7 linked regions of the Homo sapiens genome follow. The protein of the gene in region 3 purifies or fractionates together with the protein of the main gene of each other region. This does not show direct contact. Each region holds a gene or a part of one and is shown on either strand. Other genes may lie near its edges. The genes, in order: CKAP2L, PPP6R1, PDGFRL, RBM6, HS3ST1, MOCS1 and SP3.

Region 1 (3,500 bases), on a different chromosome or scaffold from region 3:
TGTTTCTTTGGAGGATAATTTTGTATATATCCTCTCAATTTGTTATGGGGTCATTGTTCTAGAGTTCATATATCTTGAGTCAACTTTAGTAATTTTGTGACTTTTTAAAGGGATTTTTTCTCAATCTTTTTAAAAGATCTCAGGTTTTATTGCCAAAGATTTTTTCTCATTAATCTTTTTAAAAGACCTCAGGTTTTATTGATTATTTTTTCTCTTGCATCAATGTCTGCATCTATTTTTATATTTATTGCTCTTTTCCTAGCTTTTTAATTGAAACCTTAGATCATTTAAAAGTGAGTCTTTCTTTTTTTTTTTTTTATAAATATGTTCAGTGCTATAGCAGATTTGCCTCTGAATTTTACTTTGGTCATATCCCTCAGATTTGACTAAGTAATACTCTTTATCAGTCAGGATCAAGTCTGAAAAACAAACCACAGAAAGAATGTAATTGGTTACACAGTATCTTATGTGGGTTCTCTAGAGGTGGAGCCTAAGAGGAGAATCCATGTGAAAGTAGTTTATTAGGAAGACACTCCAGGGAAAACTGGGAGGGGAGTGAAGTTGTAGGATCAGAAAAGCGAATCCATGGACGGTGACTCTGGCACAGCCCCACAGGGGAGCTCTGGAGACAGTGTAGGTCACATCTCTCAGAGTCATCCTGATCAGAGGCAAGGGAGCTACATTGTTAAAGCTTCCATGGTCATTTATTCATGGCTGCCTCGGGCGGACAAGAATTGTCAGGCACTTCTCACTCTCTGGGCACATACGAGGGAGCACAGATGCTGGCTGTGAAAGCACGCGGTAAGCCTGTGTGCACAAGATGCTGAAGGGATCAGAAGGAGTGTGGGTGCTACACACAGGGCTGACAGCACACAGGAACCTGAGGTAATGTGATAACTGTAGGAAGCAGCTTGTACCCACTGGGTCTAGGAGAACAAAGAGAGGTTAGGGTATCAGAACCAAGAAGCAGGAGAGACAAACCCTGGTAGAAATGGGACTCCAACTGTAAGGAAGGCATACTACCCAGCAGATGATGGAGGAGAGGCCCTGCAGGGCTGGGGCTCAGATTTTGAGGAAAAGATGCTATCCATTTGGTGCTTCTGCTCTGAAGCTGCACAGGGAGGTGGGCTCTGAGGGGGAAAAAAAGATGCTAGAACCAACTGTTACTGCCAGGGTGAGGGACCGTTGCTGGGGTGATGAAAGCAAATAGGAAGAAGCAAGTGTCTTCCTTCTCCATCCCTGCAGCCTCCCTCTCGTGCCCCCTGCTGGCAGAGCTGAGCAGGGAGCTGCTGCCCAGCAGAAAGTTTTACAGAGTTTTATCCCCAGCATCACAAAGCAGAGGATGGGGTTTGGGGCCAATAGACAAAAGCTTCATAACTGACATATCTTGTCATTGTTCATTTCTAAATAGCTTGAGATTCCCATTTTGAGTTCTTTAACCCAAAAAATATCTTAGAAAAGTATCTTTTAATTTCCAGATGTGTAGATTTTTTTTTTCTGCTGTTAATTTCTAATTATATTGCATTGTAGTTGGTGAATGTGGCCTATGTGTACTCTACTTGATGGATTTTGTTGAAATTTTCTTTGTGGCCTTAATATCTGATCATTCTTGGTAAATGTTCCAAAAGTGTTTGAAAATAATGTATATCCTATTTGTTTATTTGATCTATTGCTTTCTGAAAGAAATATGCCAAAGTCTGTCACTGGCACTGTGATTAATCATTGACAATTTCTCTTCATATGTCTGTCAATTTTTACTTTCTATTTTTTAAAGTTATGTTGTTAGGTACAGAAAGATTCATGACTTGCTTTGATTTCTTTTGTCTGATTAATCTTGCCACACCTGCTTTTTGTTGTTAGAATATGTCTGGTAGCTCTGGTAGCTCTTTTTCCATCCCTTTACTTTAAGCCTTCATGGGCTGACTTATTTTAGGTATGTCTCATATAAATGCACACAGTTAAATGTTTTAAACAAATTTGAAACTCTCTGCTTTTAAAAAGCAAATTTAGTTCGTACACATTTATTATGATTACTTGTATGTTTAAACTTATGCCTGCTATTTTATTTTGTAATTCAGCTTACATGAATTATTTTTTCCTCATTTCTGTGTTTAATCTAGTTTTATTTCATAAAATAATACACTGAAATGAAAATAAAGTGATAGATGTAAGCTCAAACATGATTTGCAGAATATATATCATATTCTTCTTGCAGTTCCTTTTTTCATTTTTTTTTTTTTTTTAAGAGACAGGGTTTCACTCTTTTGCCTAGATTGGAGTGCAGTGATGCCATCATAGCTCACTGCAACTTTAAACCTCCTGGGTGGACCCAAGTGATCCTCCACCTCAGCCTCCTGAGTAGCTAGGACTACAGGTACACACCACTACACCCATTATAGTTTACATTTTTTTGTAGACACAGGGTCTCACTGTGTTGCCCAGGCTGGTCTCAAACTCCTAGCCTCAAGCAGTCCTCTGCCTCAGCTTCCCAAAGTGCTGGGATTACAGGTGTGAACCACCCACTGCACCTGGCCTGCAGTTACTTTTATTTCAAGTCTTTCATGTGAATTCTAAAGTTTACTCACTAGTGACTTTATGATTTTTGAATGGCAAACCTTTTGAGTCTGTATTCTTGTGAAACTTGTTATTTGCCTTCATGCTGGAATCATAGTTTGGCTGGGGGAAATTTCTTAATTTCAGCTTGTTTTCCCTGGAAAAATTTAAGTGACTGCTTCATTTTCTTTCTTGCATCTGGAGTTGTTGATTTGTTAATGTCTCACGTCAGTCTGATTCTCATTCCTTTATAGGTAATCCTTTTCTTCCCCCTCTCTGGAAGCTTGTACGATTTTCTTTTTATCTTTGGTTTTCTATTATATTTTTTTCTCCCATTCATCCTGCTTAACTATCTGAGAGCCTTTTCAACCTGAACAACTGTTTCTTTGTTCATTTCTTGAAATTCTTCTTCTACAACCACTTTGTGTGTTGAACTTTTTTCCTTCTAGAAACTCTCTTAGATGGATATTGGAGTTATTGAGTAATGGATATATCCTTCAGAACTCTAAATGTTGTTTTCATACTGTTCACTTCATTGTTTTATTACACTGGTTTCTAGGAGGATTTCACAGCTGAATTTTCAGCTCACAGATGTATTCTTCAGCGCTGTCCATGCAGTTGTTCTGCCTTTCTGTTGGTTATTTTTCATAACAGCCCATTCTAGTTTTAGGATAGCAATACTCTCTCTTATCACTCTGAAGATATTGACTGTGATACTCTTAAAAGTATTCCTCTTTGCTCCAGTGTTCATTCTTGTTTGTTGAGTTTTATGCCTCTTTCATGTAGTGTTGGTTTTCTCAAATGTTAGTGATTCTCAATTGTGAACTTACCTTTGCGTCTCCCCCATTTCTAGCAGTAGAAGGTGCTGCTTGGCTGAGTGTGCCAGTACCTGGATTTCTGGGCATGGTAGTGCTCCCCATTCGTTGGGTCCATGTCACTGTCCTGCT
Region 2 (3,500 bases), on a different chromosome or scaffold from region 3:
AGAGTCTCGCTCTGTTGCCCAGGCTGGAGTGCAGTGGGACAATCTCGGCTCACTGCAACCTCCGCCTCCCAGGTTCAAGCGATTGTCCTAACTCAGCCTCCCAAGTAGCTGGGACTACACGCACCTGCCACCACGCCTGGCTAATTTTTGTATTTTTTAGTAGAGATGGGGTTTCGCCATGTTGGCCAGGCTAGTCTCGAACTCCTGACCTCAGGTGATCTGCCTGCCTCGGCCTCCCAAAGTACTGGGATCACAGGTGTGATCCACTCCGCCCAGCCACTTTTTTCTGACTCCAGAAGCAACAGATGCTTGTGGCAAGAAACTCAGAAAAGTTCATGATCATAACACCCAGAGGTGACTGATATTAAGATGTGGTTGACCCACAAATCAAAACAAGCAGAATTGGTAATTGGAAAAAAAAAGTTTTGTTACCCCGAGGCCTGTGGAGGGGAAAACTGGACCCCCATGTCTGGCAGACTCCTGAGCCAGAGGGCATCCATGGAGGTGCAGCTCTGCCCCACAGTCCCTGCGCCAGGACTGCTGGTCCCCACTACCCTGAGCCCCTCCCGCCTGGAACCCCTAAGGCTAGCTCCAGGAGTGGGAGGGACCCGCTCTGTGTCCCCAGCACAGAAGATGTTTGTGCCCCACCCTCATGGCCTGCCTCTCGGAGAGAAGAGACTGCAGAGCTGGAACTCATGTAACAGGAGGCAGACACACGAGGCTGCAGACACACACACAAGGCCACGGCCAACGCGTGCCCAGGAGGGGCCACAGCTGCAGGCTGAGCCCACAGGGCATGTAGGTGCGTGCAGGGGACAGATACAAGTAGGCGCGCCTGCTGCTGCAGAGGCAGGACAGGGCTGTGACCCTGCGCAGGAGACACTCACTTCACACTCTCCTCCTGCTCCCCAAACTCCTCATCATTGAAGCCGAAGTGGTCAATGAAGGCAGAGGTCATGCGCTGCATCTGGAAGTCCATGAAGGCCTGTGGGGGTGCGGAGGTTAGGGCTGGAGGGAGTTGGGCAGGACCCCACTCCAGCATAGCCCAGCACAGCCCCACATAGCCCCACGCCCACCTGCTGCAGCACAGCCTCCTCAGGGAAGTTGAACTCCTTGAGCCGGTCGTCCTCATCGTCACTGGAGGAGTGTAGGTGGTGGGTGTTCACCTGGGGAGAGGAGGGGGCGTCAGGGCCTGCTGGAGCCCCCAGACCAGGGTGGGCAGGCAGCTATCGGTGGCGGTGGGAGGCTAAGACTGGCCCAAGAGAGAGAAGCAGCAGGAGGAGTGCAGGAAGAGAAGCTGGGCCTCACCAGGTCCACCATGTTCTTCTTGTTGGTCTCCGCCAGGGGCCCCGATACGAAGGCTTCCCACTGCTCCTGCTGCTCGCTGGGCAGCTCTGCTTAGGTGAGAGGGGTGAAGACGTGAGGCATCTCGGGGCTTCAAGCCCCCCACCTAGCCCTCAGGCCGGCCTGGGGACCCTCACCCTTCAGCAGCTGCCGCAGCTGCTCTGCATTGGGCCCCTTCTCCGTGTTCTGCACCAGGGCACCGGCCACTCTTGTCAGGTGACCCATGTAGCCTTTCCGAGGGCCTCCCGCACACCTGGCAAGAGTGAAGGCCGCGGCTGCAAGCCAGGACTGGACCCAGGGATGCCCAGCCCCAGCCCGGCCCCCCATCCAGGCAGCCCCAGCCCCTGGAGACATGAAGGGCAGCAGGTGCTCACTGTACACGGTCGTTCTCCTCCCAGGACGTCAGGATCCGCTCCACCAGGCGGCACTGCTGCAGCAGCTGCGGGAGAGCGGGACAGGATGGCCTGGAGGGGTGGTCTGCACACATGTGGGGAGCTCTGCACTGCAGCAGGGGTCCCTTCCTCAGCAGATGCTTCACCAGGCCCCCGCTCATCCAGAGACGGGGATGGGAAGGAGGGATGCAAGCTGGGGCTTGGGACCCTGGCATCCACCCAAGTCTCTCTGGTCTTTCTACAAAAGAATATGTGGTGCATACACACACACACACACACACACACACACACACACACACACACATGCATGCACTAACGGACACACACATGCTCACACATACATGTTCACATACTCGTGTGCACTCACACACATACATGCTCTCACACACGCTTGCACTGACACATGCTCACACACGCACGTGTGCGCACTCATGCACACTCAGCTGCTCGCAGGTCTGCTCCCGCCCACCCCTAGCTCTTCAGCTCAAGTCAGGAGCCCACTGCTCCCTGCACCTGCATGTTTCATCCGCGTTTCTCCCTGGCCATGCCTCCCACACCCCATCTGGGCGCTGGCACCTAACACTACCCAACAAACACTTGTGGGAGGAAGGAGTGAGGGGTAGGCCTCTGGAGAGGGTGCGCCCACAGGGGATGGGCCCAGAAGGAGGGGGACCAGGGAGTCCCAGCTCACATGTTTCACAACAGGGTTTTGGATGGGCGTCTCAGGGCTGCTGTCAGGAGGTGGCCCCAAGCTCAGCATGGTGCTCACGCATCCCTCTACTTGGGCATGCAAGAAGTTGTTGAAGACATAATGGAAGAAGAGGTCCTATGGGAGGACACAGGATTGGTACCAGAGAGGCCCCGCCCCAGCCGAGCCCCCAACCCCTGAGCCCCCAGCCGAGCCCCCACCCCAGCCCCCGAACCCTCAGCCCAGTCCAGTCCCCGCCCCAGCCCCTGAACCCCCAGCCCGGTCCAGTCCCCGCACCAGCATGGTGTTGGGCACGTCCAGTGCCAGGAGCTCGTGCGTCAGGGCTGCATCATTGGCGCTCAGGGCACTGGCCAGGAGCTTGACCACGTGCAGCCGCGTGTTGCCCAGAGGCGGAGCCAGCATGCCCCATGTCATCTGTAGCGGCTCCAGCTGCAGACACAGGGAGGCCTGATTCCCAAGGGCTGCCCTTCCTGCTTCCCCCGCCTCCCCGAGGACCAGAACCCACACCCCTGACCTTGGGAGGCTCCAGCAGGAGCTGGTGGAAGCAGCTGAGCCGCGGGCGTAGGGCGTGCAAGGCGCCCACACTGGACACAGTGCTTTCCAGGGCCCCCTGGGCCAGGAGCTCCAGCTGCCCATCCACACTGCTGAAGAAGCTGTTCACGGTCACGGACTCGGACCTGCAGCAGGGCAGGGTCGAAGGCGGAGTGAGCCTAGATGGCCTGTGCGCCCACACAGGAGTAGGCACAAGGACCACGTCTGCAGGGTCTGGAGGAAAACGAGGAGCCACATGCCCCCAGCGCCGCTCTCTTCTGAGGCCCTTCAGACAACACCTGGCTGGGGTGGGGAGCCCGCCAGGCGGCAGCATTGGCAGTCCACTGTGAGAGCACGGGTGAGGGGTGGAGGCGGGAAGGCAAACCCAACAGGCTAGCGGCCTGTGTGGTAAGGCAGGGGCACGGGGGCCTGGGGTCCCTCCCAACACAAGCTGCAGCAGTGGCCTCAGCCTCAGTGCCCTCACTTGTCAAAGCAGACAAGAAGATTCCTCCCTCGGCCCCGTA
Region 3 (3,500 bases):
TACCTCCAGGAGGGCAACAAGCCATTCATGAGGGGTCCACCCCCACGACTCAAACACCTCCCATTAGGCCCCACCACCAACACTGGTGATCAAATTTCAACATGAGGTTAGGAGGAGGTCAAATATCCAAATCATAGCATTGCACCTCTGGCCCCCCAAAACTCATGTCTTTCAAATACTGCAAATTACAAGCATCCTTTCCCAATAGTCCCCGAAATCTTAACTTGTTCCAGCATCAACTCAAAAGTCCAAAGTCTCATCTGAGCTTGAGGCAAGTTCCTTACAGCTGTGAGCCTGGAAAATCAAAAACAAGCCTTCGCCCTCCCCACCCCTCTAACTTGGCTGGGTGAAGCCCACATGGCTGATCTGACAGGTTGGAGTTGAATGTCTGTTTGTTTTCCAAGGTGAGGGTGCATACTGCTGGTGGCTCTCTAATTCTGGGATCCCCACATGAGCCCTGTTCCCATGGCTCCCCTAGGCAGTGCCCTGGTAGGGACTCTCTGTGTTAGTTCTGCCCCTGTAGCAGGCTTCTGCTCGCACACTCAGGCTTTCTGATACATCCTCTGAAATCTAGGTGGAAGCTAAGCCTCCATCACTCTTGCATTCTGGGAATATGCAGACTTGACAACATGTGGAAGCCTCCAAGGTTTATTTATAACTTGTGCCCTCTGGAGCAACCTCTCTGTTCTGCTTATTGGCCTCTTCTGCTCTTATTCGCCCATCTGGAACCACACCTGGGACCTTTTAAGTGAAGGCTAGAGCTGGTGCACCTGAGATAGGGGCAGTAGCATCCCGAGGTGGTGCACGGCAGAAGAGCAGCAGGGCCTGCCCCCCAAAACCATTCTATTCTCCTGAGTCTCTGGGCCTGGGATGGGAGGGGCTCCTCAAAGATTTCCAAAATGGCTATAAGGCCTTTCTCTTATTTTCTTAGCTACTAGCATGATTCAAGCAGTCTCTCAACTGTGCCCTTGGATTCTTTTCCCAAAATGCTCTTTCATTCTCTGCCACATGGCCAGGCTTCAGATTTTCCAAACTTTTACTCTCTGCTTCCCTTTTCATAATAAATTCTACCTTTAGGTCATTCCTTTGCTGCTGTAATTGATCTTGAGCCTAAGTTTTTTTTTTTTTTTTTTTTGAGACAGAGTCTCACTCTGTCACCAGGCTGCAGTACAGTGGCCTGATCTCAGCTCACTGCAATCTCCTCTTCCCGAGTTCAAGCGACTCCCCTGCCTCAGCCTCCCAAGTAGCTGGGACTACAGGTGCGCACCACGACATCAGGCTAACTTCTTGTATTGTAATAGAGACAGGGTTTCACCATGTTGCCCAGGCTGGTCTCGATCTCCTGACCTCATGATCCGCCTGCCTCCCAAAGTGCTGGGATTACAGGCGTGAGCCACCCTGCCCGGCTGATCCTAAGCTTTTAAACCCAGCCACACCCACCACTACTTGAGCACTTTGCTGATTAAAAATTTCTTCTTTAGGATACCCTAGGACATCACTCTTAAGTGTGGCCTTCCAAAATCCCTAGGGCATGGACACAATGCAGCCAAGTTCTTTGCTAAGGCCTAACAAGGGTGACTTTTCTCCAGCTCCCAATAAGTTATCTGTTTCCATTTCAGACCTTGTCAGCATGAACTTTACTGTCTATATTTCTATCAACAGTTTAGTCACAACTATATAACCAATCTCTAAGAAATTCCAAACTTTCCCTCCTCTTGCTGTTTTCTTCTGAGCCCTCCAAACTCTTCCGATTCTCTGCCCAGTACCCAGTTCCAAAGCTGCTTCCACACTTTCAGGTATCTTTATAGCAATATCCCACTCCTTGGTACCAATTTTCTGTGTTAGTTCATTTCGCATTGCTATAGAGGAATACGTAGGGCTGGGTTGTTTATAAAGAAAAGAGGTTTATTTGGCTCATCGTTCTGCAGGCTGTACAAGAAGCATGGAACCAACATCTGCTTCCAATGAAGGCCTCAGACTGCTTCCACTCAGGGCAGAGGGCAACGATAACTAGCAGTGCAGAGATCACATGGTGCGGTGGGAGGAGGAGGGACCAGACTCTCTTTAACAAGCAGTTCTTGCTGGAAATAATACAGAATCCACACATCCCCAAGGGAAGGCATTAATCTCTTCATGAAGGATCTACCCCCAAGGCCCAAACACCTCCCATGAGGCCCTACCTCCCACCACCACCACCACATGGGGGATCAAAATTCAACATAAGATGTGGTGGGGGCAAACCATAGCACCTACCTTTGAAAACATAAATCAAATTATGGGTACTTCTTCGTTCAGAAGCCTCCAGTGACTTTCATCTCATCTAGAAGCCAGCCCTAAATCTTCCCATGCCCTACAAGGCTTGGCCAGCTCCCGTCCCACGCATCACAGCCACAGCCACACTGGCAACCGGTACAAGCCCATCTTGAAGCTATTGCCTTTGTGGTGCCCCTGGAGTGCACAGCTTTGCTGTCAGCTACCTCCGGGGTTTGCTTCCTTGTTTCAGGCAGGCTTATGGCTATCCATTCAAACGGCATCCTCACACCCCGCCTCAGTCCTCTCCATGTCTCACCCTGTCTTACTGGTTGAATTGTGTCCCCTAAAAAGATATGCTGAAGTCCTAACTCCCAGGTATCTGTGAATGTAACCTCATTGAGGAATGGAGTCTTTGCAAATGTAATCAAGTTAGCATGAGGTCATTAGGGTAGGCTCTCCTCCAATAGGACTGATGTTCTTATGAGGAGACACACACACACACACGTATGAAAATGCCATGTAAAGACAGACACGGGGAGAAGATGGTCACATGGCAACAGAGGCAGAGATTGGAGTGATGTGGCCACAAGCTAAAAAAAATGCCAAGGGGTTGCTGACCACAACCAGAAGCTAGTGGAGGCAGGGAAGGATTCTACCCGCATCTTAGAAGCTGTGTGGTGCTGCTGACACTGACTTTGGACTACAAGCCTCTGGACTGTGAGCAAACAAACTTCTGCGGTTTTAAAGCCTCCCATTCCGTGGTACTTTGTTATGGCAGCCCTAGGAACCTAATAGACCCTGATTCATGATTCTCGATGCCACTTACCACTTCCTTAAATTGTATCTTTACTTCTTTATCTTTCCTCTCCCTTCATTGAGCACCACAAAGAAAGGGTTTTAAAACCTTGTCTAGGTTTGAAAACCATCAGTCCTCTGACCACCAGATCTCTCTCTCTTGCCCTCAAACTTTTCTCTTTCTGTGTTTTAAGGATCAGAAATGGTTTTGTATGTCAAACATGCCAGCCAAGATCCTAAATGCTTCAAAGCATTCATTATGTGCATTCATAAACAATAAGGAACTTTAGAATTCTTTTTTTCATTAAAATATTTCTGTACTAATTTTTACTCTTTTTTTTTCTCAAAAATAAACGAAGACACGAAAGTGTCAAAGGCTCTTGGTTAGAGAATCCTCGTCATTGTGTCTCTGTCCTTACCTTCTTAGAGATCTGGCTATATTGCTCTCAGAC
Region 4 (3,500 bases), on a different chromosome or scaffold from region 3:
GGATTACACACATGCATCACTACGCCCAGCTAATTTTGTATTTTTAGTAGAAATGGGGTTTCTCCGTGTTGGTCAGGCTGGTCTCAAACCCACGACCTCAAATGATCCACCTGCCTCAGCTTCCCAAAGTGTTGGGATTACAGGCAAGAACCACCACGCCTGGCCTAATTTTTGTTATTTTTAGTAGAGATGGGGTTTCACCATGTTGACCAGGCTGGTCTTGAAATCCTGACCTCAAATGATCTGCCCACCTTTGCCTCCCAAAGTGTTGGGATTACAGGCATGAGCCACTGTGCCTGGCCTTATTTTTCTTCCCCACCCTCACATTCTCTCCTGAGGTTGCACCACACTGGTCTCAAGTTCCTGGCCTCAAGTGATCCTCCCACCTCAGCCTCCTAAAGCACTGAAATTACAAGCATAGGCCACTGTACCCAGCCAAATCTACTTTAAAAGAGAATACCTTCATTGTAAAATTACAAATATAACCCTCCTTGCTTAAATCATATATTCAAGAAGTTTAACATTTAAGTTAATTACGTTAGCTGCAAGAGGATAGTTGCAACATTAATATCAGCTCTTCACAACTAGGGAGACTCCTAAGTATTCTCTCAATGAATTTAAATAAGAAAATGATCCCTAAACAATCACAGGTCTAACTAAGCGAGAGTTGCAAGAGTCAACTCCCAAAGACATATACTTTCAAACTAAATTATCCCAAGGCATGTAAATCAGCATCATAAAACAAAATAATGAATAAACACACATCAAAAGGGTAGGGGCAGTGGCTCATTGCTGTAATCCCAGCACTTTGGGAAGCTAAGGTGGGGGGACTGCTTGAACCCAGGAATTTGAAACCAGCCTGGGAAATATGTTGCAACCTTCTGTCTACAAAAAAATACAAAAATTGCTGGCCAGGCATGGTGGTGCATGCCTGAAATCCCAGCTCTTTGGGAAGCTGAGAAGGGTGGATCATTTGAGATCAGGGGTTCCAGCCCAGCCTAGGTAACATGCCTAAACTTCATCTCTACAAAAAATACAAAAATTAGTCAGATTTGGTGGTGCACAACTACAGTCCCAACTACTCAGGAGGCTGAGGCAGGAAGACTGCTTGAACACGGGAGGCGGAGGTTGCTGTGAGCCAAGATCGTGCCACTGCACTCCAGCCTAGGCAACACGGTGAGGCTCCATCTCAAAAAAGAAAAAAAAAAACACAACTAACTAGGAATGGTGAAATATACCTGTAGTCCCAGCTTCCTGGAAGGCTGAGGCGGGGGAACCCCTTGAACCCAGGAGGTAGAGGTTGCAGTGAGCTGAGATCGCACAACTGCACTTCAGCCTGAGCGACAGAGCAAGACTCATTCTCAAAGGAAAAAAAAAAAAACTAGCCAGGCATAGTGGCTGGCGCACATCTGTAGTTCCAGCTACTCAGAAGGCTGAGGTGGGAGGATCGCTTGAGCCTGGGAGGTCAAGGCTGCAAGGAGCCATAATTACACCACCGCACTTCAGCCCGAGTGACAGAGCAAGACCGTGTCTCAAATATATATATATATAGTTCCTTCATATATACACACACATATATACACAAATGGAAAGTGAAGCAGGAAGAAAAGAATAAAAGAAAAAAGAAATATATATATATAAATATATATTCATATATATACATATATATTCATATATATATATACACACACACACACATATATATGATCTGAGCTGAGGACCTTTTCTCTAGAGATTTACATTCCTACATTCCACTCCTGAATACAAATTTTGCTTTCTAATGGTTATGCAAAGATAAAAATAAAATGAAAAAAAAAAAAAAAAACTGGCCAGGCACGGTGGCTCATGCCTGTAATTCCAGCACTTTGGGAGGCCGAGGTGGGCGGATCACGAGGTCAGGAGTTCGAGACCAGCCTGGCCAACATGGTGAAACCCCATCTGCACTAAAAATACAAAAATTAACTGGGCATGGTGGCACATGCCTGCAATCCCTGCTACTCAGGAGGTTGAGGCAGGAAAATTGCTTGACCCTGGGAGGCGGAGGTTGCAGTGAGCTGAGATTATGTCACTGCACTCTAGCCTGGGTGACAGAGCAAGACTCCGTTTCAAAAATAAATAAATAAATAAATAAATAAATGTCATCCTTCACAAAAGTCTTATTTAAAGAAAAAAAAAAAAAGCAGGCCGGGCGCGGTGGCTCACACCAGGCGTGGTGGTGGGCGCCTGTAGTCAGTCCCAGCTACTCAGGAGGCTGAGGCAGGAGAATGGCATGAACCCAGGAGGCGGAGCTTGCATGAGCAGAGATCGCACCACTGCACTCCAGGCTGGGCAACAGAGCGAGACTCCGTCTCAAAAAAAAAAAAAAAAAAAAAAAAAAAAGCAATCCACCCCATCAACATACCTGAAGGTCCCGTTGGGCATCTCGGGCAGTTTTGCCCTCTGGAAAAGACTTGCTCTGGCCATAGCCAAACATCTGGCTTCCTGGCAGCCTATGATCCACATCACGGTACTCCATGCTTCTGTAATCGGTGTCTTGCCGCCCAAGAAAGTCCAGACCGCCTTCTTCTTTAAACAGACCAGCATCTGAACTCTGCTCTTCACGTCCAGAAAGCTGTGACTTATCTTGGTCTTGAACTGGACTTTGGCTGTTCTGAAAGTCTGCTGGAGACTCATGTTCAAAGGCTACACCTTGTGTTTCTCCTTCTCTTGTTTCTGAATGCTCAAATTCTCCCTTCTGAATGCCAAAAGCAGGCCTTTCTATCGTATGGTCATGTGTGGATTCTTCTCTCCTGTTCACATTCATACCAGAATGTTCTCTATCTTGTGTAGAGGGCTGAATGTAATCCAAAATATTTGGATCCACAGGGGGCATCTCCCTATCTTTAAATTCCATACAAGATCCCATCTCTCTGCCCCTAAAATCCTGATCAGTCCTAGATCGGTGTCTACCTCTGAAATCTGAATGTGGCGTATCCCTGTCCCTAAAGTCTAGATCAGTAGTACCTGAACCTCGGCCTCTAAAGTCTACTTGTGTTCCGTCTTTGTCTCTAAAGTCCAAATCAGATACATCTCTATTCCTAAAATCAGAACGGGACTGTTCTCTGGCCCTAAAATCCAAATCTGATAAATCCCTTCCCCTAAAATCTGCATGGGATCCATCCCGGCCTCTAAAATCTAAATCATAAGTGCCCCGGCCCCTGAAGTCAGATGGAGGAGCATCCCTACCTCTGAAGTCAACAGCGTGAGCATCCCTGTCTCTGTAGTTCATATGAGGTGCCTCCCTACCTCTATAATCCATAGAAGTACCATCTCCACCCCTATAGTCCATAGGTGGTCCTTCTCTATCCCGAAAATCCCCAGAATGTATGTCCCTACCCCTGAAGTCCAACTGTGATGAATCTCTGCTCTGGAAATCAGAAGACGAAAAATCTCCCCCCCTGAAATCATGTCCAGGTCCCTCCCCTCCTCGATAGTCACCATGCGGTCCGTCTCTAGCTCCA
Region 5 (4,110 bases), on a different chromosome or scaffold from region 3:
CACTGACCCAGCCTACAGGCTCAATTTCATCAGGACACCAGATACATCTTACTGTGCCTTCCTCCAAACTTTAGCCCCCATAGACAGACATGATTTAGCAACCACGGTGGGGATATGCCATTGTGGGTAGCTGCTATGTTCTCAGAAAGGCAGTGTGCATGAGTGAAGCAATTTACACCACCCAGGCCATCTTTCTAGCCCCTTCCTAGTCACCATCGAGTTTCAATTCAAGGCAAGAGAAGCTTCCATGTGGCTTTTCCCTTCAGAGGCCCCCCCCCCAACCCTCACAAGATTTTTCCAGTAAAATAATTTCTTATTTTAATAAGAAAAGTACATGCTCCAACTTTTAGGGGGACCCAGGGGGGGGGCTTGAGGCTTCATTCTAGACATAACCACAGGAAAGTAAAGAACCCTTTGCTTTTTCCGATGCCATCTCAAGATGCCAATTTCTCACCAGCTTCTCAGAACAAAAATCTCCTATCTTAAAACTACAGAGCATTGTATACCCTGTGGCATCACAGAGGATCCACAGTCTAGAAGCACAGCTTAATAAGCCTCACTAAGGAATCTTCATCTATGCTGCTGTTGTAATTAACTGCTTCCACTTAAGAGTGCTTAGTCATGAAGTTGTCCATCCCTGTCAAACTCAGCTGAAAGAGTTAGATGGGCTAACCAAAACCTGGAAAGACTCTTTTAGAAGCTGTTCTTTCTCTGCTTAGCGCTGGAGAAAACCTTATGTAACACAATGGTCCATTTCAATATGTTATTTCTGCAATCCTGTGGGGGAAAATCTAAGCGCTGGATGTACAACGGGAAGGGTAAGGCAGGGATTTGCAGCGGAGCGCGCGTCTCCTGGAATTTCAGTAGGTAAGGCTTATTCTAATTGCACCCAGTGTTACCCAATATTACCAGGAATGCAGAAAGCAAGAAAAAAATCCGAACGTCAAAGGATGCGCTTTGCTTTAGAAATGCAGGGAGGCAGAAGTTGGGTTATTTCTCCCTCCTTTTTTTTTCTTTTTTTTTTAAAGATGGAATTCCTGGAATTAACCCTTGGGTGGAAGCATTTCAACAAAATAAAATGAGATTTGCCTGCAAAGCGAGAACGCACGGGTGGGAATGAAGGATCCTGCCTGTGCCAGGCTGCTGCCTCAGCAGTGTCCAAGCACCCAGCGCCTGAAAGCGGGAGCGTGGGGACTCGTCTGGGGACCCTCTTCCGGGGCTACTGGCGGGAGGCGCAGCCGAGCTGGTGGTGGCGGGGTTTCCCTCCGGGGCTAGGGCTGAGGGAGGAGAAGAGGGCGGACTGGCTCCTTCCGTTCTCGGCCACCCTCCCCGCCACTCCTTGAGGCTGCTCCATGCTAACAGGAGACTGTTTCTCGGAGCGCAGCGCAAAGACAGTGGATTTGGAGTGGCCTCCCTAGAATCCCCCCAAAAGCATCTTGGCACAAGTTGTAGATAAAAATAGCTCATGATAACATTGTGGGAAAGGGAGGAGCGAGACTCGCGCAAGGCGAGGCAAGGGTACCACTGGATCTGCAAAGGAGGAGGAAGAGGGAGGATGCAACCCTTGGCCCAAGAGAGCGCCCTGAGTGTGCGAGGAATCGCTGGCTCCCAGGGGAGGGAAAGAGATGGAAGACCTATAGCGCCTATAACTGCAGAGTTATAGACCTATAACTGCAGAGCCCAGCACACCCCATCCCGCGCCGGCACCCGGCTTTGGCTCCAGCTTCTTCTTCCCATCATCCGCCTACGTTCTGGGTCTGTCCTCCGCTTCCTGGGACAGGCTGGGGCTAGAAGGAGGAGCAGCGCGCCGTCCGCCCCCTGGCTGGTAGAGCGCACCTGGAGAGGTCAAGCTCCGCGAATAAGACCCTTCCTGGGAGCTGGGGTCTAGGCGTTCCAACCGCGGGTTCGCACCCCGCCATCCCTCACCTCCATCCGCTGCCACTACCCAAGGGCCCGGAAATAGAAAACCACGAAGGGGGAAAAAAATCAGTAAAAAGTAACAAGAAAAAAATCAAGACCCTCATGTAATTGGCATTAGGGATGAGAGGTTTATTGTCAGGGCTGTCACCTCAATCTCTCTCTTTGGGAGATGCCTATCTCCAACCAAATGCAAAGGCAAACCCGACCAAGGCTTCTCCACCCCCAAAGGCTCCCTCAGCCGAGTTACTTTTGCGGGCTGTGTCCTCGCCCCAGTTTCTGGCCCCAGGTGGTACCCAGGATCCGTTGAGTGCTGCGCTCTCGCTGCCCTACAGGGTCCTATGGTGAAGCTGCGGTCGCGAAGCGGCCGGCAGGAGCGAACCTCACGACTCTGCAGGGGGGGAAAACATCCAACCCAGTAAGAGTCAGAAATCTGGGTCCCTGTCCTTACAGATCAACCGGTCCCTCGGGACTTCCAGAGCAGAGGTGCTAGGGCAGGAGGTGAGGAGGATGGGAAAATCCCCAGCCTTTGCTTCCTGGTTCCCTCTGCATCCACTCCACCTGCTCCAGCCTCGATTCTTCTTAGGTTCTGCACTTGCCCGAAGTCCAGAACGCCAGACAAAGGCACCTCGGAGCCCTCTACACCTGCGTCCTGCCACTCTCCCACCCCGCGCGCGCCGCACTCACCTGAGCCGCGCCTCTGTCCAGCCCGTCCGGCGCCCTAAATAGGCTCCTAGGCTGGGCCATGGGCAGCACTGCCGAGCACCCGCGGCGGGTAGAGCAAGTTTCTGGATGGCCCGGGGCAGGCGGGCGGGGAGAAGGCGCAGGCACCCACTGAGACCCGGCTGTCGTGGCGGCGACTCCTGGCTGCCAGGGCGCAGAGGACCTTGCAGGCGGGCGTTTTGGTGCTCAATCCCGAGGAGGGGGAGGAGCGGGAGGAGGAGCGGGAGCAAAAGGAGGGGACGGAGGAGGCCGGGCCCGGAGGGAGAGCGCGTTGGGCAGAGGAGGATCGCGAGCGCCCACTGCTGCCCGGCCCGCTCGGGTGCCGCCCAGAGTCCGGCCCGCTAGGTGCCTGGTGCTCCGCTCTGCGCTCAGCTGCTCCGCACAGCCCCGCCTGGCACGCAGCTCCAGCGGCTGGTCGGGTAGTAGTCGGTCCCGCCCACCCGGTGCGGTGGCCCCTGGGGTTTCAGTCCAAGGGGAGGGACCAGCGCTCCAAGAAGGTGAGGCTGCTGGGATGGGTGACTCCGCCGTCACTGCAAACACGGGACGTCCCGTCTACTCCCTTACGCCTGCTTGGTCTGAGCCCGAGTCTACCTCTTCTCTAAGTCGCCAGCTCGGCACTTGTACCCGGGACCTGTGCTCCTCCCACGTGAGTCTGCACCATGCGTATTCCCTTCCTGGCAGGTGACCCACCTTAGGCGCTGGCGCTCCTTCCGCCCCCCGGGAAGCAGGAGGTGCCATCCTCTCCAATTCGCTCTGCAGCCGGACTGGGACCGGAGCGGCGGCCTGGGCCAGAATCCGCGTGAGGAGCCGGCTTCAAAGAGCGCCCTGTCGCCATTGAACACTCCTTTTCCTTTGGTTTAGCGTCGGAGAGCGGACGCCAATTTGCCAGGAGAGCGCGGAAAATTCAGCTTTTTTTTTTTTTTTTTTTTTTTTTTTTTTCCGCTAGTGCACTAGGATTGCAAACGTCAGCTCTGAAATAAAAAGCAGGATATTTCTGCCCCGCTCCTCTATTCCGGAAGCTGGGAGGTTCTGTGGGAGAAAGGACCTGCACCCAATAACTCAATTTAAGATTTAAGGTTTTGAGGGGCGTGGGGTTGGAATCGCCTTGGAGAAACGGGTTTGCCTGCTTACCTGAGCCAAAGGAAGTTGCCCTCAAAGGCAGGTCAGCAATCATACCCCGCCAAAAGCAAATGCACATCAAAGTAACTTCCTTTAAATGAGATTACTGTAGTTTCCATGTCTTCCACATTAGTAAATAAATATTTGGAAGACTTCGAATTTGTGATTTACGTTTAAATATATTTCACCAACATTGTTTAATTAAAAAAAAATCCCATCTAAGAGAAGGTTCCTATAGGAAATTGGCCCTTTAACTCATACACAGATTACCCTCGGCACTTTCAGAAAACAACACAGTGACCAGTATATTCTGTCTTTTTGATACAGCCAGAAGCACCCTGAAAGCTGAGA
Region 6 (4,000 bases), on a different chromosome or scaffold from region 3:
CATTCTCCCTCACCAGTGCCTGCTGTACTCCTTCTACCTTCACCCACACCCACTTCCTTGCAGCCTAACCCCTAGCCAGCATTTGTTTTTTCTGGCCCCCTGAACAGATGGGTGCCTTTGCCTTGCCTAGACTCACCCTCCCTGCTTCCCCCGCCACAGGCAGCAGGCTTCATTGTTGCCCAACAAAGCCTGCATGGAGCCTCAGAGGGAGAAAGAGGGATACAGCACTCCCAGGCTAGGCTGAACCCTACAAAGATTGTCTGGGCCACCCCAGATGCAGGCTGGCAGGTTGCTGTGTCTCCCCCACCCACCTCCCCATTGACCCACACACTACTCCTTTCCATAGCTAGAAGCTACTCGACCTGTTCTTGGACTCAGCCCACAGCCCCCTTTCCGCAATCCTCACAGCCAGCTCCCACTTAACCTCACTTCTCTCCCTCACACCCTCATCCTGCCACACAAACAATGCCCAGTGGCTTTCCATCCTAGCTCTCCAAGCACCTCCCATCCCAAACCAGACTACCAGAGCCCTGTGTGGGCGTGTTGGGGGAGACAGACCCTGCAAGAAGGGGTTCAAGGTGTCCCCACCCCAACTGGCAAGCTCTGGAGATGAGCAGAACATATCCATTTCCAGACTCACCTCCCCTTAGAGTCTCCTCAAGACAAGTTTCTGTGCCCTCCCCCATCTTATGATGGGCTGGCCCAGTCCTCTCATTTTATAAACATGAAGCAAAGGGAAGTGACAGCCCCAGGAGCCAGGTGAAATTGGAGGCGAAACTGGCGGGTGAAAACATGGGACTCCCTGTCCAGTGTGGTCTACTATGCCACGTGACTCCTCACTAGTTAAGTTTCAAGCAGCTACAATTATTGGCTGAATCCACTGCCTGCACAACCCTGCGTTAAGCGCTTGTGGGGATAGAAAGGCGGAGGTGCACCCAGCCCTCAGGAACTCCCAGTCTGCTGAAGATAATCCTAATGAGATGTCCAGGATTCAATGTGAGTTGACAGAATAGCTATCCAACAAGTCCAGATGGGAGGGGACTCACAGGACAGAGCATGTGCCAGTGGCAGCATGGATAATAGTAATTACCACCAACATTTACATAACACAGCACTTACATGGGCTAAGCTTTGTTCTAAGTATATACGTTAACATACGTTAACTCTTTTAATCCCTGTGACATCCTATGAAGTAGACACTTTTATTCTTACTTTGCAGATGAGAAAACAGACACTGAGAGGTAAGGGGACTTGGTGAATCCCTAATAAGGGATGGGGCTGCCCCAGAGTCTATGTTCTCCTTTCTGCCACATTACCCCTCCCTTCACAGTGTAAAGGGATGGATAGGAGCAGGCTCTCTCCCTGGCCTCCACACAGGGAGGACGGAAAAGCATTAGAGTTGAGTTCCTGCCCTCTACAGCTCTGCGACTGGAGGAAAGTTAACTTAGATTAGCCCCCTCATCTGAACATACAAACTCTACTCACCTCACATGGCTTAGTGAGGACTAAATGCTTCCACATGTGAGTCACTCAACACAGGTTCTCTCATGAAAGACCAGTACAAAATAAACTAGGGGGTGGGGGGCTGGAGAAGAAAAGTCCCTTTTCTTGAATTCTTTAAAGATCTCTCAGCCATCTTTGCTTTCCTATCTCTTCCTCAATGATGTTCAGAGTTTGAGGATACTAAAAAGTCTTCACTTCCCAACCATGGGCCTGCTTATCTGAGGATCCCAGAGGGGCTTAGATTTGGGGAAAGCAAATTTGGCGGAAGTCATTGAGCAATATAGGGGAGGAGGGAGCAGTGATCTTATGAATCCCAGGACAGGAAGCCTAGTTCTGGGAGACGGGGAAAAAAACGCCTAGATAGGTACCGAAAAGAGGTTTCACTAAATGAAAAGAGGTACTTTTCCCCCCAAATTATTCCCTAACCACCTGAGCAGAAGAACAACCAAAACCTAAAACTTTTAATGACTTGAAACACTCTGAGGGGTGCTGGCAAGGACTGAGGGATCTTACCCAAAACCCTAAAGACAGAGGAATTAATTTCTCACCTGGAAGAAGCCACGTCCTGCCCTGTTCTGCTCTAGGATAAGGCTGAACCCTCCCAAGGTTAATAAAAAAGACAAGGAGAGTCAGCAAAGGATGGGTTACAGAGCCCTGGGACTACAGTAACAACTCATCGTTGGTGACACCGAGGTGACATGTTTAGTCAGTCGCACTATGAAGCAGGTGTCACAGGGACACCTGATCTCTCAGCTCTTGGGATAGGGAGGGAAAATGTTTAAGAAAGAGGGTGGGTGCAAGGCAAGGCTGAAAGGTACTAAGACACCTCACTGGACCCAAAGTCCCAGTCCTCTGCTTACCCGAATTTCTGGCCAAGCTCAGGGCTAGAAGGGGTGGCGTGGCTGGGGGGCAGGGAGGTTCTGAAGCGGGACTCCCAGGAACCTCTCCCGCTGGGCTAGCGGGTGAGACCGGGCGGTCCATCTGGAGAACATCGCTCCACTGAGGAGTGCCAACGGGTCCCTCCCAGAAGCGGTCAAGCAGATAGGCCGGGAGCTACTGGGGGAAAAGGGCAGTGTGCCGGGGCCACTCCTGCCCCGGGAAGCTGTGGACGCAGGCGGGGTGGGCTCACCTCCGAGGCAGCTCGCGCGGACTCCCCGGGGCAGGGCTGGGTCACCGGAGCCCCTGAGCTGCAGCTCCGGGCGCTGGACCTCAGAAGCCGCCGCAGCATCCGGGACAGTGGCCGCGCCGCCATGAAGCCTGATACGAGCGGAACCGCAGCCCGCTTCGGGAGCACACTGGCCGGGCACTCGCCCCCGGGGTCATCCCAGCAAGGGCGGGGAGGGGCAGGGGGAGGGCGGGACCCGCGCAGCCAATAGGCGAGGACGCAGTCCCGCGTGGCCTTGTGGGAGCTGTAGTACGCTCCCTGTGCCCACTTTCCTGGGCCGGGGTAGCGCTCTAGGGCAGAAGGGTAAACTCAGGTAAGGAACGGGGTTCTTTTCCTTCCAGTTTTTCTGGCTGCTCTAGTCTCAGATTTAGGTCGTGGTGTGACAGTAGGCAGGACAGGACAAGGGCCAAACGAATGAGGCACTGCCTTGGATGCAAAATTTAAGAGGGTGCCAGGTAAACTGCGGTTATCAAAGTAAGTAATTTTTTAATGTAATATTTCAAAAAATCGTAATAAATTTTCAGAAGTCCGTGAAATATCAACATTCTAAATAAAAAGATTTAGCCTACACTTGCATGACTCACATCACTCAGTGCACCATAGTGCAGATTGTGGTTGTAAAACGGTCAGTTAGGTCTTTCAAGATACACTTCTCCAGTTGTGCCCCAAAAGGATATTAACAATCTTTTTTTTTTTTTTTTTTTTCGTGGAGAAGGCAAGAGTATATGAGAAGTCACAGAATGAGTGGACAACATTTTTGAAATGCTTCTTATACACCAAGCACCATGCTAAATGTTATTTAAAACAATCCTGGTATGAATAGAATGTCCTTTTTGCAACTGAGGACATTGAGGCTTAGAGAGACCAGGTAATTTTCTCGAAGTCACACAGCTGATAGTGGGTTTCAAACCCAGGGCAATCTGCTTTCTACAGTCATTCAGTCAAGATTCAGTATGTGTTAGGAATGGTGGGGTGTGCCTCTTCCTCTCTATAAAAAGCAGAGTGCTGTAGTCCTTTAAGATTTTGGATAACACACACAATAATGAGCTTATGTACTAAGAATAATTATGCTCAAACCAGCCTGTTGTATCCAAAACCCTGTCCCTGTGGAATTGCAAGAATAAAACACCGGCTGGAACATACAGCTGCCAAGTGCATGCTTAGGAAGTGGGAATATAGCTCCTGATCTTGAAGAATTGACCGAATAGTGGGAGAGGAAAAAATAACTGAATATAACTGACTTTTACAAGTGCAGTGGGACTGTCAGAAAAGCTGAGATGATTTTAGCCTTAGATTCAATGTGAATTTCTCACAATGATACTCAAAATTCAG
Region 7 (4,200 bases), on a different chromosome or scaffold from region 3:
TTAAGTGCTTTGGAACTGGGATGTAAACTCAGTATCTCACAAATGGATTACCTATTAAGTTAGGACACACAAAATCTGGTTAAAGTGCTTGGACTTCACAACCTCATCCACCAGCACATCACATATCACACAAAATATAATAATCACAGTAATGGGAAAACTGAATCTTGAGCCAGATTTCTAAAAAACAGGTATTGTGGACAGTGTTTCCACCTCTTGAATTTAACTTCTTTCTTGGCAACTATACTTGAAGGTAACAGGGAGAGATGTCTCTTAGTTGGCAAAACACACACTTAAAACCTGAGCATTTTCCCCCAGGATGACAGCAAGATACCAAGGATGCCAAAGAAGGAAGGAGTGTTAACCTAATCCAGTAAGAGAAACAAGATTTTAAAATACAACAAAAATGTTCCAATGGGGGAAAAAAGGTAGTTCACCGGTTCACGACTTTAAAAAACGTTGGCAGTGGTTGATGGGCTTATTTCAGGAGATATCTGACTTGGTACCAAGAGGATAAAGAGGCCGGGAATAATACGTTTGTGCAGCAAAATGGTTATGTGACCGATTTTTTAAAACACAGAATTCTGCCCCACTGAATACATACACATACCACAAGTAAAATGAAATATACTTTTAAGTGCCCGTTTTGGTGCCACTGGCCAAAATTAAAACTCTCCTTCCGTATGTGAGGTGACTTGAGATTTCTTTTTTGCTTTAAATGCCTGCCTTCAGGGTACGTGAAAGTGGGAGACCGGTTGGAAAACTGGGGCTAAGGGGGCTGGGAGCGAGATGGCTGTGACTGAATCAGGAAGCTGGATGTGAGAGAGAAAAATCCTCCTCCAGCCTCGGAGGGGGTGTCTCCCCTAATACCAGCTCCCTCCCCCCGGGCTCGTGGGGCGGGTCTGGTTTGCTCAGTAGCGGCAGCGGCCGCAGCAGCAGCCCCGGGGCTGAGCAGCGGTGGCCTCCTGGCAGCGCAGGGAAGCGGCGGCTCCAAGAGCGCGAGGCCCTGGGGAGATCCGGCCAAGACTGCTGCCGGGATGGAGGAAGCGTCCAGTGGAGCAGGAGTCACCGGGGACGAATTTCCTCCCCAGCTCAGCTCCCCTACAGCTTGGCTAGGCCTGCTCCGAGCGCCTGCAAGGTGGAGGAGGCCTGCGCCTCGGGCCTGGCAGCGGCAGCCGGCGAGGGAGGCGGGCACAGCGGGGTAACCGGCGAGCCGTAGCCGCTCTCGAAAACCTACGCTGCCACGGCCGCTCATTGTCTCTCCCCTTCCACCCGGGGGCAAACAGGAAGCGCGCCGCCTGGCAGACCGACGGACAGGCGCCTGGACCAATGAGCACAGCCGACAAAGAGCACGGCGGCGAATGAGAGCCAAGAAGAGGGGCGGGAGTTCCGGGCGGGCTGTCACCCTCTTCCCCCCTTTTGGGCTGGAGGCTCCACCTTTTGTGTTTCCCGCACAGTCAATCAAAATAGGAAAAAAAAATCCCCGGACCGCTCCGGCCGTGTCCGCCGCCGCTTCCCGCATCCTCTCCCGCCGCCGCCGCCTTCGCTCCTCACCATGTGTAAGGCGGCGGGGAGCCCCGCCTGAGGTGCCCTAAACACACTATGACCGGTACGTAAAGCCGAGAGAGCAACCCTTGCTGCTGCCGCCGCCGCCGCTGCCGCCGACCACAGCCAGCCCGGGGCCGCTGCCGCCGGTCTCGGCCCCGTGTGTGCGACCGAGTGTCTGTGAGAGGCAGAAAGCTGCACTCCCCTGCGCCTCCCTCCCCTCCCCGCCAGCCACCGTCCACCCCCGAAGCCCCAGCAACGCCGTCTCCCCGCCAGGCCCCGGGGCGGGCGGCCCGGTCCGCCGGGAGCGCATCCCCCTGTGTGCGGGCGCGGGCGGGCGTGTGTGAGTGACTGACGGTGCGAGAGGAGCGAGCGCGAGTGAGAGCGAGCGGCGCGAAGGGAAAGGGGAGGAGAGGAGAGGGGGCAGGGGCAGCGCGGGGAGGAGGAGGAGGAGGGAAAGAGGAGGAGGAGGAGGGTTACAGGCAGCGGCGGGCGGGGGCAGCAGCAGGAGGGGAGGAGGGAGCCGCCGCCGCCGCCGCCGCCGGGGGGCGGGTGGGGGAGGGGAAGGGGCCTGGGTCCGGGCTTTGGGAGTAATTTCGCTTCGGCCCGCGGGCCCCCTCCCTCTCCGCCACCCGCCTTCCTCCCCACCCCCACCCCCCCGCGCTGTGCCTGCAGCTCCCGAAAAGCCCGTGAAACAAGAGGAAATGGCTGCCTTGGACGTGGATAGCGGCGGCGGCGGTGGCGGCGGCGGCGGCCACGGCGAGTATCTGCAGCAGCAGCAACAGCACGGAAACGGTGCGGTGGCGGCGGCAGCGGCGGCCCAGGTGAGGAGCGGCTGAACCCCGGCCCGGCTCCCCCCTCGCGCCGCTTTCTCCTCCCCTCGCCTCTCCCCTCCCTCCTCGCCTCACCCCTCCCTCCTCGTCTCTCCCCTCCCCTCCACTCCCCTCCCCCCGCCCCGGGAGCTGCCCGCCCGAGGCGCCAACGCTCCGACCCCGCCCGCGCCGCCCCGCCTCGCCCGCCTGCCGCCTTTTTGTGCGCGTGTGAGTGTGGGCCCCAGCGTGCCCTCCCGGGGGTGGGTTCCGGGCGGAAGGCGGAGGCCCGGCGCGCAGCCCGCCGCCCGCCTGCCCGCGGACCGGGGAGCCGGGGTGCTTGGAGCGGGGGACGCCAGGCGTGGGCTGGCGGCGGGACCAGGAGGAGGAGGAGGAGGAGGAGGAGAGCGCGGGCTGGCGCTTGCCCGGGCGCAGTCGGCGGGGACCGAGTCGTACTTCCTGTGCGAAAGGCGGCCCGACCCTAACCGCCACCCCCTCCCCCTGTCTCCCTCTCTGAACCCGCCCATTGGGGGTAGGACACTCAGCCGTCACCGCTCGCTCTGCTGGCCGCTACCTGCAGCAAGATAGGGCCGCCATCGCCGGGCGACGACGAGGAGGAGGCGGCCGCCGCAGCCGGGGCCCCCGCCGCCGCCGGAGCGGTAAGTCCCGCGCGCGGCCCGCCCCCGCCGAGGCCGGGCGCCCGCCATCCCGGACCCGTGGCGCGCCTGCCCAAAAGGCCTCCCCGGCGCCCGCGCTTCCCCCGACCCGCACGGGCCGCTGGGCTCCAGGGCGCCCTTTCCTGCTCTTTCGCATCCCGGTTTGGATCTGAAGCCAGCCCAGGCTTTCTCGAAATTGTCACTGCAGCACCTCGCGCAAAATCTTCACAAAATGAAGTCTGAGAGGGCGGGGGTAGAGGACTCCAAAATGGATGTTTGAGCAATTCATATCAGTGCTGAAAACTCCTTCGCTTAACACTACAAAATTTTCAAGCACAGCCTATCGGCCATAGATAGTATCAACTAGAGGCAATGTCTTTAGTTTTTATTATTTTTGAACCTGGAGCATTTTCTGTTGGACGTTACAGGATCTTACTGCTTTAAATCATACATTATTAAAAAAAATGAGGGTTTATTCTTTGAATTACCCTTTTGTATGCAGGAGTGAAGACTGCTTTTTTAGTTGACCATTCAAAATCGTTGAATTTTAGTTTTTGCAGACTACTAAAATTTGCAGTGACTTTTTTTTTGTAAGGGGGGTAAATGAAACATTTAGCAGCCTTTGAAATCAGCAAGTTGCTTAGATAGTACTTTAGATTTTGAAACTGAATATAACAGTGTTAGAAAAGTATGTGTAAGGAATTGTATTTACGTGCATACTAGTAGTACAATACTTATAGCTGAATTTGGTTGGCAAAAGTATGTTTTCATTTTATTACGACTGCTAGTCAGGTAAGATATGGTGGGATTCTTTCTGTAGTGTTTTCAGTGTCTGGGCAAGGGGAGGAGCTCGCCTGTGTTATATGAGGGGTTAATACCAATAGGATAGGAACAGTTTTTAGACTGTTAATTGTGAATTTTACATTTGGGTCATCACTGTTGTGTAGATTTGTTCACCTATTAAAATAATGAAAACCCTCATTTGAGTGTGTGTGTGTGGTGGATCATAGGAATTGATTTGTGGAGTGATACTTTCAATAGTCACTGAAGACAGAAGTTTGGTATTTGGTATAGTCTACAACAAATGCTTAGTATGTCCAGGTATTTTTTTTTTTTAAGTTAAACCAATGTTAAGCTATTACTGGTAAATAATTTGTAATTTTAGTGCTTCGTTATAGGGGATGTGAATA

Evidence for each region.
Region 1: the proteins of PDGFRL (region 3) and CKAP2L purify together in Homo sapiens (co-immunoprecipitation; one large-scale study listed by IntAct). This does not show direct contact.
Region 2: the proteins of PDGFRL (region 3) and PPP6R1 purify together in Homo sapiens (co-immunoprecipitation; one large-scale study listed by IntAct). This does not show direct contact.
Region 4: the proteins of PDGFRL (region 3) and RBM6 purify together in Homo sapiens (co-immunoprecipitation; one large-scale study listed by IntAct). This does not show direct contact.
Region 5: the proteins of PDGFRL (region 3) and HS3ST1 purify together in Homo sapiens (affinity purification with mass spectrometry; one large-scale study listed by BioGRID and IntAct). This does not show direct contact.
Region 6: the proteins of PDGFRL (region 3) and MOCS1 purify together in Homo sapiens (affinity purification with mass spectrometry; one large-scale study listed by BioGRID and IntAct). This does not show direct contact.
Region 7: the proteins of PDGFRL (region 3) and SP3 purify together in Homo sapiens (affinity purification with mass spectrometry; one large-scale study listed by BioGRID and IntAct). This does not show direct contact.

Annotation. Positions count from the first base shown.
Region 1 is NC_000002.12:112,747,610-112,751,109, reverse strand, and holds part of CKAP2L (cytoskeleton-associated protein 2-like), read left to right. Parts: intron 1-3,500. UniProt on the Homo sapiens protein: Microtubule-associated protein required for mitotic spindle formation and cell-cycle progression in neural progenitor cells.
Region 2 is NC_000019.10:55,238,518-55,242,017, forward strand, and holds part of PPP6R1 (serine/threonine-protein phosphatase 6 regulatory subunit 1), read right to left. Parts: intron 3,123-3,500; coding exon 2,960-3,122; intron 2,875-2,959; coding exon 2,722-2,874; intron 2,563-2,721; coding exon 2,428-2,562; intron 1,784-2,427; coding exon 1,719-1,783; intron 1,598-1,718; coding exon 1,482-1,597; intron 1,460-1,481; exon of another isoform or gene 1,395-1,459; coding exon 1,309-1,394; intron 1,167-1,308; coding exon 1,077-1,166; intron 986-1,076; coding exon 888-985; intron 1-887. UniProt on the Homo sapiens protein: Regulatory subunit of protein phosphatase 6 (PP6). May function as a scaffolding PP6 subunit. Involved in the PP6-mediated dephosphorylation of NFKBIE opposing its degradation in response to TNF-alpha.
Region 3 is NC_000008.11:17,580,216-17,583,715, reverse strand, and holds part of PDGFRL (platelet-derived growth factor receptor-like protein precursor), read right to left. Parts: intron 1-3,500.
Region 4 is NC_000003.12:49,967,650-49,971,149, reverse strand, and holds part of RBM6 (RNA-binding protein 6), read right to left. Parts: coding exon 2,402-3,500; intron 1-2,401. UniProt on the Homo sapiens protein: Specifically binds poly(G) RNA homopolymers in vitro.
Region 5 is NC_000004.12:11,426,095-11,430,204, forward strand, and holds the start of HS3ST1 (heparan sulfate glucosamine 3-O-sulfotransferase 1 precursor), read right to left. Parts: upstream 2,801-4,110; 5' UTR 2,605-2,800; intron 1-2,604. UniProt on the Homo sapiens protein: Sulfotransferase that utilizes 3'-phospho-5'-adenylyl sulfate (PAPS) to catalyze the transfer of a sulfo group to position 3 of glucosamine residues in heparan. Catalyzes the rate limiting step in the biosynthesis of heparan sulfate (HSact).
Region 6 is NC_000006.12:39,931,663-39,935,662, forward strand, and holds the start of MOCS1 (molybdenum cofactor biosynthesis protein 1), read right to left. Parts: upstream 2,801-4,000; 5' UTR 2,756-2,800; coding exon 2,633-2,755; intron 2,562-2,632; exon of another isoform or gene 2,364-2,561; intron 1-2,363. UniProt on the Homo sapiens protein: Isoform MOCS1A and isoform MOCS1B probably form a complex that catalyzes the conversion of 5'-GTP to cyclic pyranopterin monophosphate (cPMP).
Region 7 is NC_000002.12:173,962,574-173,966,773, reverse strand, and holds the start of SP3 (transcription factor Sp3), read left to right. Parts: upstream 1-1,400; 5' UTR 1,401-1,602; coding exon 1,603-1,609; intron 1,610-2,220; coding exon 2,221-2,369; intron 2,370-2,890; coding exon 2,891-3,013; intron 3,014-4,200. UniProt on the Homo sapiens protein: Transcriptional factor that can act as an activator or repressor depending on isoform and/or post-translational modifications. Binds to GT and GC boxes promoter elements. Competes with SP1 for the GC-box promoters.